Homo sapiens: one gene and its partner. The protein of the gene in region 1 purifies or fractionates together with the protein of each later gene. This does not show direct contact. Each region holds a gene or a part of one and is shown in the gene's direction. Other genes may lie near its edges.

The links. The genes of interacting proteins can lie anywhere in the genome.
Region 2: the proteins of PPIP5K2 (region 1) and ZBTB8B fractionate together in Homo sapiens (co-fractionation; one large-scale study listed by BioGRID). This does not show direct contact.

What each region holds. Positions count from the first base shown.
Region 1 is NC_000005.10:103,126,075-103,130,993, forward strand, and holds part of PPIP5K2 (inositol hexakisphosphate and diphosphoinositol-pentakisphosphate kinase 2), read left to right. Parts: intron 1-3,231; 5' UTR 3,232-3,515; coding exon 3,516-3,629; intron 3,630-4,919. UniProt on the Homo sapiens protein: Bifunctional inositol kinase that acts in concert with the IP6K kinases IP6K1, IP6K2 and IP6K3 to synthesize the diphosphate group-containing inositol pyrophosphates diphosphoinositol pentakisphosphate, PP-InsP5, and bis-diphosphoinositol tetrakisphosphate, (PP)2-InsP4.
Region 2 is NC_000001.11:32,467,308-32,472,226, forward strand, and holds part of ZBTB8B (zinc finger and BTB domain-containing protein 8B), read left to right. Parts: intron 1-3,276; 5' UTR 3,277-3,317; coding exon 3,318-4,308; intron 4,309-4,919. UniProt on the Homo sapiens protein: May be involved in transcriptional regulation.

The sequences.
Region 1 (4,919 bases):
GGCTTTATACTTGATGTTTCTTACCTGGAATGTTCACACCATATAACCCCATGGTTGGTTTCTCATTTAAATTAAATTTATATTTAAATGTCACCTTATTAAAGAGGTCTTTCTAACATGTATTTATTTGTTGATTTACCTAGTCCCTCACCAAATGAATGAATGAGACATGTTTCAGACCTAAGGTCATAATCAAATGAGGGACATATATCTATATACTTCATACAGCATTACAGACTTAAACAGAACTTGAATAAGTTAACAAAAGGGGACAGACCAGTCATTAATTCATACCCTTGGGAAAAAAAAATCTATTGGATACATACTTTTTTTTCCCCGAAAGTTGATTTCTACTTACACACATATTTTGTAAAGTATTTCAAAAATGTGGGAGAATTATATTGAAAAGACTATGTATTAGTCAGGGTTCTCTAGAGGGACAGAACTAATAGGATAGATATAGCTACAAATGGGAGTTTATTAAGTAGTATTAAGTCACACGATCGATCACAAGGTCCCACAATAGGCCATGTGCAAGCTGAGGAGCATGGAAGCCAATCCGAGTCCCAAAGCTGAAGAACTGGGAGTCTGATGTTTAAGAGCAGGAAGCAACCAGCACAGGAGAAAGATGCAGGCTGGGAGGCTAAGCTAGTCTATCTAGCCTTTTCACGTTTTTTTTTTTTTTTTCTGTCTGCCTTATATTCTAGCTGCACTGGCAGCTGATAAGATGGTGCCCACCCAGATTAAGGGTGGGTCTGCCTTTCCCGGAACACTGACTCAAATGTTTATCTCCTTTGGCAGCACCCTCACAGATACACCCATGATCAATACTTTGCATCCTTCAATCCAATCAAGTTGACACTCAGTATTAACCATCACAGAATAGTAGGAAACACAGCCCAATAGGTCTGCACAGCTACAACCATTAGTTCTGCCATTGTGTCATGGACTTATTAACTGATTCTTTAAATTTTATTTGTATGTATTCCAGACTTTTTCCAATGAATACTCTAAAAGGCTAAAAAAAATTAATTTTCAGCTTTACCTCTAAAACAGTATTGTTCTCACTTTGTTAGAACACTTTAACTAGAAGGAAGTACAATACAGTTTTAAAATAATGTCATAAAATGTGTGTATACACACTCATATTCATGTATGTATACATATAAGTACATACCTATATATTGCATTGACATACTGGACCTGGCATTTCCTATCATTGCCATTCTGAAGTAGATAGACATTTATTACATTATTACATGTTTCTATTATCTTTTTTATTGGTGGTTTATCACACTAAAACAGAAAATGTCAATTTATTTGGCTATCTTCCTACTAGACTAAAAGCTCCTTAAGGAAAAGAGCCATGTTTACTTTGACTTTATATAACCAGCACTTAATACTATGCCTTCTATAATAAGTAAATAGTGTTTGTTGGATAACTATATTCATTTCAACAAATAATGAACAATTCATTCTTTTAGATTTACATGTTAGAGTCAGTAGGGAGTTTGGTTTACAGGAGTGTTCATGGAAACTATGGTTTATTGAGTGTTTAATATACGCCAAGCACTTATGCTATCTCACTTAGTCTTTACAGGGTTACAGGGTGTTACTATACTCCCTTTTTTATAGACTAATAGCAACTAGCACAAGTCACTAGTTAAGCACTGACAGATTAAAACAGATGTACCTGACTCCAGAACATTCCCCTTCCATTATCGAAATATTTGAGCTGTTTTTAGATGGAAAGAGTAAAAAAATTGAAAGAAACCAAGAGATATTTGCCATTTGATAGGAAACAGAACTGAGATCAACTTATCCACCAACATGAAGTTTTACAGCCACTGGAAACTTTCTGTTGTTGTTGTTTTTTTTTTCAGTAAACATTTTTACATGTTAAACAGTACAGAGGAATAGAACAAAAGGCATTGATTTATAAAGTAAATTATTTCTGCTTTTATTTTTAAATTACAAATTATTTTAAATGTAACGCTGTATTTTAAAGATGGTTAAAGTGAAGGCTGACTGGGCAAATTGATTTTAATGTCTACTGGGGAGTCACCAAGTTATACTGGAATTAGATCTTTAGGAATAGAACTTTTGGAGTTATGCTTTTAATTCTACCTAGCATATTGTTTGACTTTTAAGAATATTTGATCAAGTAATTTATTGTACTACCAGTAATCAAATGAAGCATTTGTTATGTAGTTTCATCTTGGTATATAATTAATTTTAATATGACCAGGAAGCAAGTACATGTAAACAACTATGGTAAGGAATATTTTGAGATGCTACTGCTCTTATAGTTCTTATTTATTTATTTATTTATTTATTTATTTATTTATTTGAGACAGAGTCTTTCTCTGTTATTCAAGCTGGAGTGTAGAGGCACAGTCATAGCTCCCTGCAGCCTCAAACTATTTGGCTCAAGCCATCCTCCCACCTTAGCCTCCCAAGTAGCTGGGATTACAGGTGTGAGCCAATGAGTCCAGCTATGATAGTTCTTTAACTGATACTCATGGACGCCTGGTTATGTGGAAGAGTTTGAATGTCAGTGAATCACATAAAATTCTTGCAGAATTTAGTGCACATGTACTTTTTTTTTCTGGGGAGGAGATCCATAGATTTTATTAGATTTGTTAAAGAGTTTTTGACTTCTACATGTTTAAGAGCTGCTGTTAAATGAAATCTTGTTCTGACTCTAATCTTTTTTTGTTCATTTATGTATGAGACCAGAATATAGAATTGTTATGTTCCCTAAAAAAACTGTTTACAGACAACTTTTACAAATTGACTTAATGTAATTTCAGATTAATATTTGTCAGTGGCTTTTAAAGCTGCATTCCATTTGTCTGTTCTTTTCCATTCCATTCAGATATTTCATAACTATGTGCTAAGAGATTTAGCTTTAATATAATTTTGTTATAATTTGAGTAATTTTCTCTTAATTAGTTTAGCTATTTTGGGATGAGGAATTTAATGTGTAGTCTTTTTGTTAATTCATATGTTTGTCAAATTGCTAAGATGTATATTACTGAAGATCAGTTTTAGTTTCTTAATTTTTTTGCTTTTATTATAAGTAATTTTCTTATGGGAGAAAATGTATTTTCATTTTGACAATATACATCAAGTTATTGGGCTGATTTTACAAGTGTCATTAAAAATTATTTTTTACATGAATGTTTTTGGAGTGCACTCTCCAAAATTAGTTTTTTCATTGCATTTTAGGTAAGAAGATTGCTGTATCAACTCAAGAAAGCAGTAACTTCACTGTCTTTGTATTTTGAATTGCAACAACAACTTTGATATCAACAATGAAGCAATGATATCTAAGAACAAAAGAGTATTTGCCAACAGTCATCATAATATCAAGTGATTGTATAAGCAGAAACAAGCTGTCACAGACCTGTGCGTCAGCTAATATATGGAGAATGCTTTCTTCTGATACTATTTACTTAGAGGCAGTTTTAATATAAATCATTTCAATTATATCTACATCAAATAAAATAAAAATGAGTGAAGCCCCCAGATTCTTCGTTGGACCAGAAGATACAGAAATAAATCCTGGAAATTATCGACATTTCTTCCACCATGCAGATGAAGACGATGAGGAGGAAGATGATTCTGTAAGTTGTTTGTTTTTCCTTTGGCGAGAGAAGACCAATACAGTATAGGCTTTTTACTAATCACTGTTAGTCTTTTTTTGTTGGAAAATTTTTGAACTGAAAAAGTATATTTTGTTTCATGACTGATGTTGTTGAATCTATGATGAATCAATAAATACAGTTATGGGTCAAACCTTTATGTTGTTTAATGATGCCTATTTTAGTTTCTTTCAGTGATACGCATAGTGTAACTCAGTGTTAGGTAACAAAAGTGGCAAAGAGAAACAGTAATCTGGGCCATAAATCCAAAAGCTTTCTTGTATGTAGAAATACATAACAAATAATTGAAGATAGGTGGAAGGAAATAATTTTAAAGTTACAAAAGAAGAAGGATTACTTAAATAGATTCATTAAGCTTCTGTTACCAATGTGAGTTCTGGTTGAACCGAAGATACTCATATTTATTAACTTCAGAAGTCTGAAAACTGAGTGGCTAGAAGGGTAGGCTACCTAAAAAGTATCTATGTGTTTGTGTGTGTGTCTAAAACTTGTTCTCTTTCTGATATCATGTTCTATCCATACTGGATCTTAGGAATGATATATATTTATTATGCTCATTTTGCTATAGTTACATTAGACCAATATTTTTCTTACTCATCATTTAATTTTTTAAGTAGAGATTGCTTTACTGTGAATACTGATTTAAAATACAGACCTACAGTATGTGTTTGTTTTTCATATATTTCTAATTGGAAAGAGAATTTAGTTTTAAGAGAAAAACCTGTTCTATTTTGTAAAAATAGTAAAAACAAACCAAAAATATTGATTAGATGACTCTTTAAGCCCCTTTTTATATTAACAATATCTTTCACAGTGGAGTTACACATATCTGAAATGCAAACTCTACTGTTAACTCATTTAAAACCTTCAACGCAGAGCACCTTTGCTACCTCCTGCCCCTGAAAAACTAGATTTTCAGGCAGGCTTCTCTTACCAGCTCAAACTTTTCTTCATCTGAAGTTTTATCTAGAAGTCCTATAAGTAAAACATGAAAGCAGAGCGTCTCTGGCTCACTTAAACTAGAAAGCACTATTGACTCAGCCTCTACTACCTTTGTCCCCTTTTTCTAGAGTTTTTCTGAACATGGTATGAACACCACTAGCAGATCAAAGCCAGGCTTCTTACATGTAAAGGCTTTTATGTCTCATCTATATCTACATCCATACCTCTCTCCCATTCTTTCTACCCTCTATGTTTTAGTAACATCAAAATTTTTATTTCCACATATTTATTGTCATACCATGCGTCTTT
Region 2 (4,919 bases), on another chromosome or scaffold:
TCTCTGCTCACTGCAGCCTCCGCCTCCACCGCCTCCTGGGTTCAAGTGATTCTCCTGCCTCAGCCTCCCGAGTAGCTGGGATTACAGGTGCCCGCCACCATGCCCAGCTAATTTTTTTGTATTTTTAGTAGAGACGGGGTTTCACTACGTTGGCCAGGCTGGTCTCGAACTCCTGACCCCAGGTGATCTACCCACCTTGGCCTCCCAAAGTGCTGGGATTACAAGTGTGAGCCACCACACCCGGCCCCAAGTGGATTTTAAACTTGGTTTATAGTTTATCTACTAAGCAGTTAAGAAATGAATATTCCTTTTTTGCTTAACAAATCTATTTTGTCCAAAGCACTCTGCCAGATACTGTAAGGGATATAAAATTGAATAAGACATGGCTCATGCTTTCAAAGGGCTTGTAGTTCATTGACAGAGAAGGGCCAGGACATAAATAATAAACAGGAGTTAACCAAGGGTAGTGGAATCAGTCAGTTAGGAGTCTCCCAGTTGCATGAAATAGAAAACCCAACTCAGAGGCCAGGTGTGGTGTCTCACACCTGTAACCCCAGCACTTTAGGAGGCTGAGGGGGGCAGATCACTTGAGGCCAGGAGTTCGAGACCAGCCTGGGCAACATGGCAAAACCCTGTCTCTACCAAAAGTACAAAAAAAATTAGCCTGGCGTGGGGGTGGGTACCTGTAGTCCCAGCTACTCGGGAGGCTGAGGTAGGATGATTACTTTAGCCAGGGAGGCGGAGGTCAGAGTGGGCCGAGATCACACCACTGCACTGCAGCCTGGGTGACAGAGTGAGACCCCATCCCCCATCTCAAAAAATAATAATAATAATATTTAAAAAAGAAAACCCAACTCAGACCAGCTAAACCAAAAAGGAACTTAATTGGCTTCTGGCACTGCTTGAGTTGGGGCTCCAATGTTGTCCCCAGGCTCCATCAGCCTGAGCTGGGCTGTCATCTTTGTTAGGCTGACTTCCCTGGTGGTATGGCAGCAACATCCCTCACATCCTGCATCCCACAGAGCAAAGAGTGCTCTTTTTTGAAATTCCAGCAAATGTTTCATTGCTTTTCATTGGCTCTGAAAACTACATGGCCATCTCCGAGCCAATCACTGTGGTCACAGGGTGGGATGCCTTAATTTTATTAGCCTACATTATAGCTTACACACCTGGTGCTTGAGGATGGCACCAGCTTTATGCAAAGCATGTTGGCCAAGAATGGGGGAAGGATGCTTCCATCAAAGCCGAAAAAAGGCACTAGAACCAAAAGAATGGGGAATGCATGCTGGCTAGCCCAAGAATCCACCAAATACTTCAGTATAATGATGATAAAGGGAGACCAGTCTTGTTCGTGACCAGCCTGGGTAACACAGTGAAACCCCATCTCTACTAAAATACAAAAAATTAGCTGGGTGTGGTGGCATACACCTGTAATCCCAGCTACTTGGGAGGCTGAGGCAGGAGAATCGCTTGAATATGGAAGGCGGAGGTTGCAGTGAGCCGAGATCGCGCCATTGCACTCCAGCCTGGGCGAGAGAGGGAGAATCTGTCTCAAAAAAAAAAAAAGACCAGTCTCAAAGTTTTGAATTGGGACACTGGAGGCTGGGTGTGGTGGCTTATGCTTGTAATCTCAGGACTTTGAGGGGTGGAGGCAGGAGGATCGCTTGAGGCAAAGAGCTTGAGACCAGCCTAGGAAACATACCAAGACTGCCATCTCTACAAAAAAAAATTTTTTTTTAATTGGCCAGGCGCAGTGGTATGCACCTGTAGTCCTAGGTCTTGGGAGGCTGAAGCAGGAGGGTTGCTTGAGCCCAGGAGTTTGAAGGTGTAGTGAGCTATGATCACACCATTTGCACTCTGGCTTGGGCGACAGACCCAAGACCCTTCCTCTAAAAAAGAAAACCAGTTTCAGATTGATACACTAAACACTCAAGTATAATTTTTTTTTTTTTTTTTGAGACAGAATCTCACTCTGTCGCCCAGGCTGGAGTGTAGTGGCGCAGTCTCAGCTCACTGCAACCTCCGCCTCCTGGGTTCAAGCAATTCTCCTTCCTCAGCCTCCTGAGTAGCTGGGACTCAGGTACCCGCCACCACGCCTGGCTAATTTTTAGTAGAGATGGTAGTTTTAGTAGAGATGGGGTTTTGCCATGTTGGCCAGGCCGGTCTCAAACTCCAGACCTCAGCTGATCTGCCCGCCTCAGCCTCCCAAAGTGCTAGGATTACAGGTGTGAGCCACCGTGCCTGGCCTCAAGTATAATTCTTAGATGTGGATATTTTCTATAGTTTGAGCCTTGAAGAAAGTAGAATGTAGTACATTAGAGCATTGGCTCTGGAGGCCAATAGACCTGATTTTGAGTCCCAGATCTGTTACAACTGGGTCATCTCCTACCCTCAATTTCCTTATCAGAACAAGGGAGACAATATTAATATTTACTTACAAGGTTTTTATAAAAATTCATTGAAAGAATTCATGTAAAACAGTAAGCACTGTGCTCACATGCAATTAGCTATAGTTATTTTTTTCCATAAATTAACCCAGTTGGATAACCTCTTATTTTTATTAGATCCAAAGCAGACCATATTATTATTATTATTTTGAGACAGAATCTTGCTCTGTCACCCAGGTTGGAGTGCAGTGGCACAATCTTGTTTCACGCAGCTTACATCTCCTGGGTTCAAGCGATTCTCCCACCTCAGCTTCCCTAGTAGCTGGGATTACAGGCCCGGCTAAGTTTTGTATTTTTAGCAGAGAAGGGGTTTCACCATGTTGGGCAGGCTGGTCTCAAACTCCTGATTTCAAGTAATCTGCCTGCCTTGTCCTCCCAAAGTGCTGGGAAGCCCATATCCTAAAGACACTATTGCACCACTGGTTTTGGAAAAGTTGTTTAAAATTTTTAAAAGAAATCTTATTGGCCGGGCGTGGTGGCTCACGCCTGTAATCCCAGCGCTTTGGGAGGCCGAGGCGGGCGGATCACGAGGTCAGAAGATCCAGACCATCCTGGCTAACACGGTGAAACCCCGCCTCTACTAAATATACAAAAAATTTGCCGGGCGTGGTGGCAGGCACCTGTAGTCCCAGCTACTCGGGAGGCTGAGGCAGGAGGATGGCGTGAACCCAGGAGGCGGAGGTTGCAGTGAGCCGAGATTGCGCCACTTCACTCCAGCCTGGGCAACAGAGCAAGACGCTGACTCAAAAAAAAAAAAAAAAAAAAAAAAAAAGAAATCTTGTTTGTAAAGGTTGGGATTTGTGAATTAACTTAAGAAAAATCTTGGCAGAGATACAGGTTTGCTCTGGAGCAGCAGCAGCTGGCGGAGCAATGGAGATGCAATCCTATTATGCCAAGCTTTTGGGGGAGCTGAATGAACAGAGAAAGAGGGACTTTTTCTGTGACTGCAGCATCATTGTGGAAGGGCGGATCTTCAAGGCCCACAGGAACATTTTGTTTGCTAACAGCGGCTACTTCCGAGCCCTGCTCATTCACTATATCCAGGACAGCGGGCGGCATAGCACCGCCTCCTTGGACATTGTCACCTCTGATGCCTTCTCCATCATCTTAGATTTCCTCTATTCTGGGAAGTTGGATTTGTGTGGGGAGAATGTGATTGAAGTGATGTCGGCTGCCAGCTACCTGCAGATGAATGACGTGGTGAACTTCTGCAAGACATACATTAGGTCATCCCTCGACATTTGCCGAAAGATGGAGAAGGAGGCTGCTGTGGCTGCAGCAGTGGCGGCGGCAGCGGCGGCGGCTGCAGCGGCGGCAGCAGCGGCGGCTCATCAGGTTGACAGTGAAAGCCCCAGTTCAGGCCGGGAGGGGACCTCCTGTGGTACCAAGAGCTTGGTCTCCTCTCCAGCCGAGGGAGAAAAGAGCGTGGAGTGCCTGAGAGAGTCCCCTTGCGGTGACTGCGGAGACTGCCACCCCTTGGAACTGGTGGTGAGAGACAGCCTTGGCGGTGGCTCGGCTGACAGCAACCTCTCTACTCCACCCAAACGGATAGAGCCCAAGGTGGAATTTGATGCTGATGAAGTGGAGGTGGACGTTGGTGAACAGCTGCAGCAGTATGCTGCCCCGCTGAACCTGGCCCACGTGGAGGAGGCCTTGCCAAGCGGCCAGGCGGTTGACTTGGCTTACAGCAACTACCACGTGAAGCAGTTCCTGGAGGCGCTCTTGCGCAACAGCGCTGCCCCGAGCAAGGATGATGCAGACCATCACTTTTCTAGGAGTTTGGAAGGAAGACCAGAAGGTGCAGGAGTAGCCATGAGTTCCATGATGGATGTCCAGGCTGACTGGTATGGAGAGGACTCAGGTGAGCTCCCTTAGCATTCATCAGCCCTGCCAGTGATTGAGTACACACTGTCTGTGCCTTGTGTTCTCCCATCATCATGATCATTATCACCATCATCATTGTCACTACCAACATTATCAGTACCATCATCACCAGTACCATCATCATTACCATCATCACCAGTATCGTCATCATTACCATCATCACTACCATCATCACCAGTACCATCATTACCATCATCACCAGTACCATCATCATCATTACCATCATCTCCAGTATCACCATCATCAGTACCATCATCATCACTATCATCATCACCAGTACTATTCATTACCATCATCACCAGTACCATCATCATCATTACCATCATCTCCAGTATCACCATCATCATTACCATCATCATCAGTACCATCATCATCACTACCATCATCACCAGTACCATCATCATTACCATCATCACCAGTACCATCATCATCACTACCATCATCACCAGTATCACCATCTCATTATGATCATCATCAGTCACCATTATTGCCACCACCACCACCACCAATATGCATTAATTGAGCACCTGCTATATGCAGGGCATTATTTCTTCATGTATGTTTGTGTTTTACCTCTACAACTGGAAT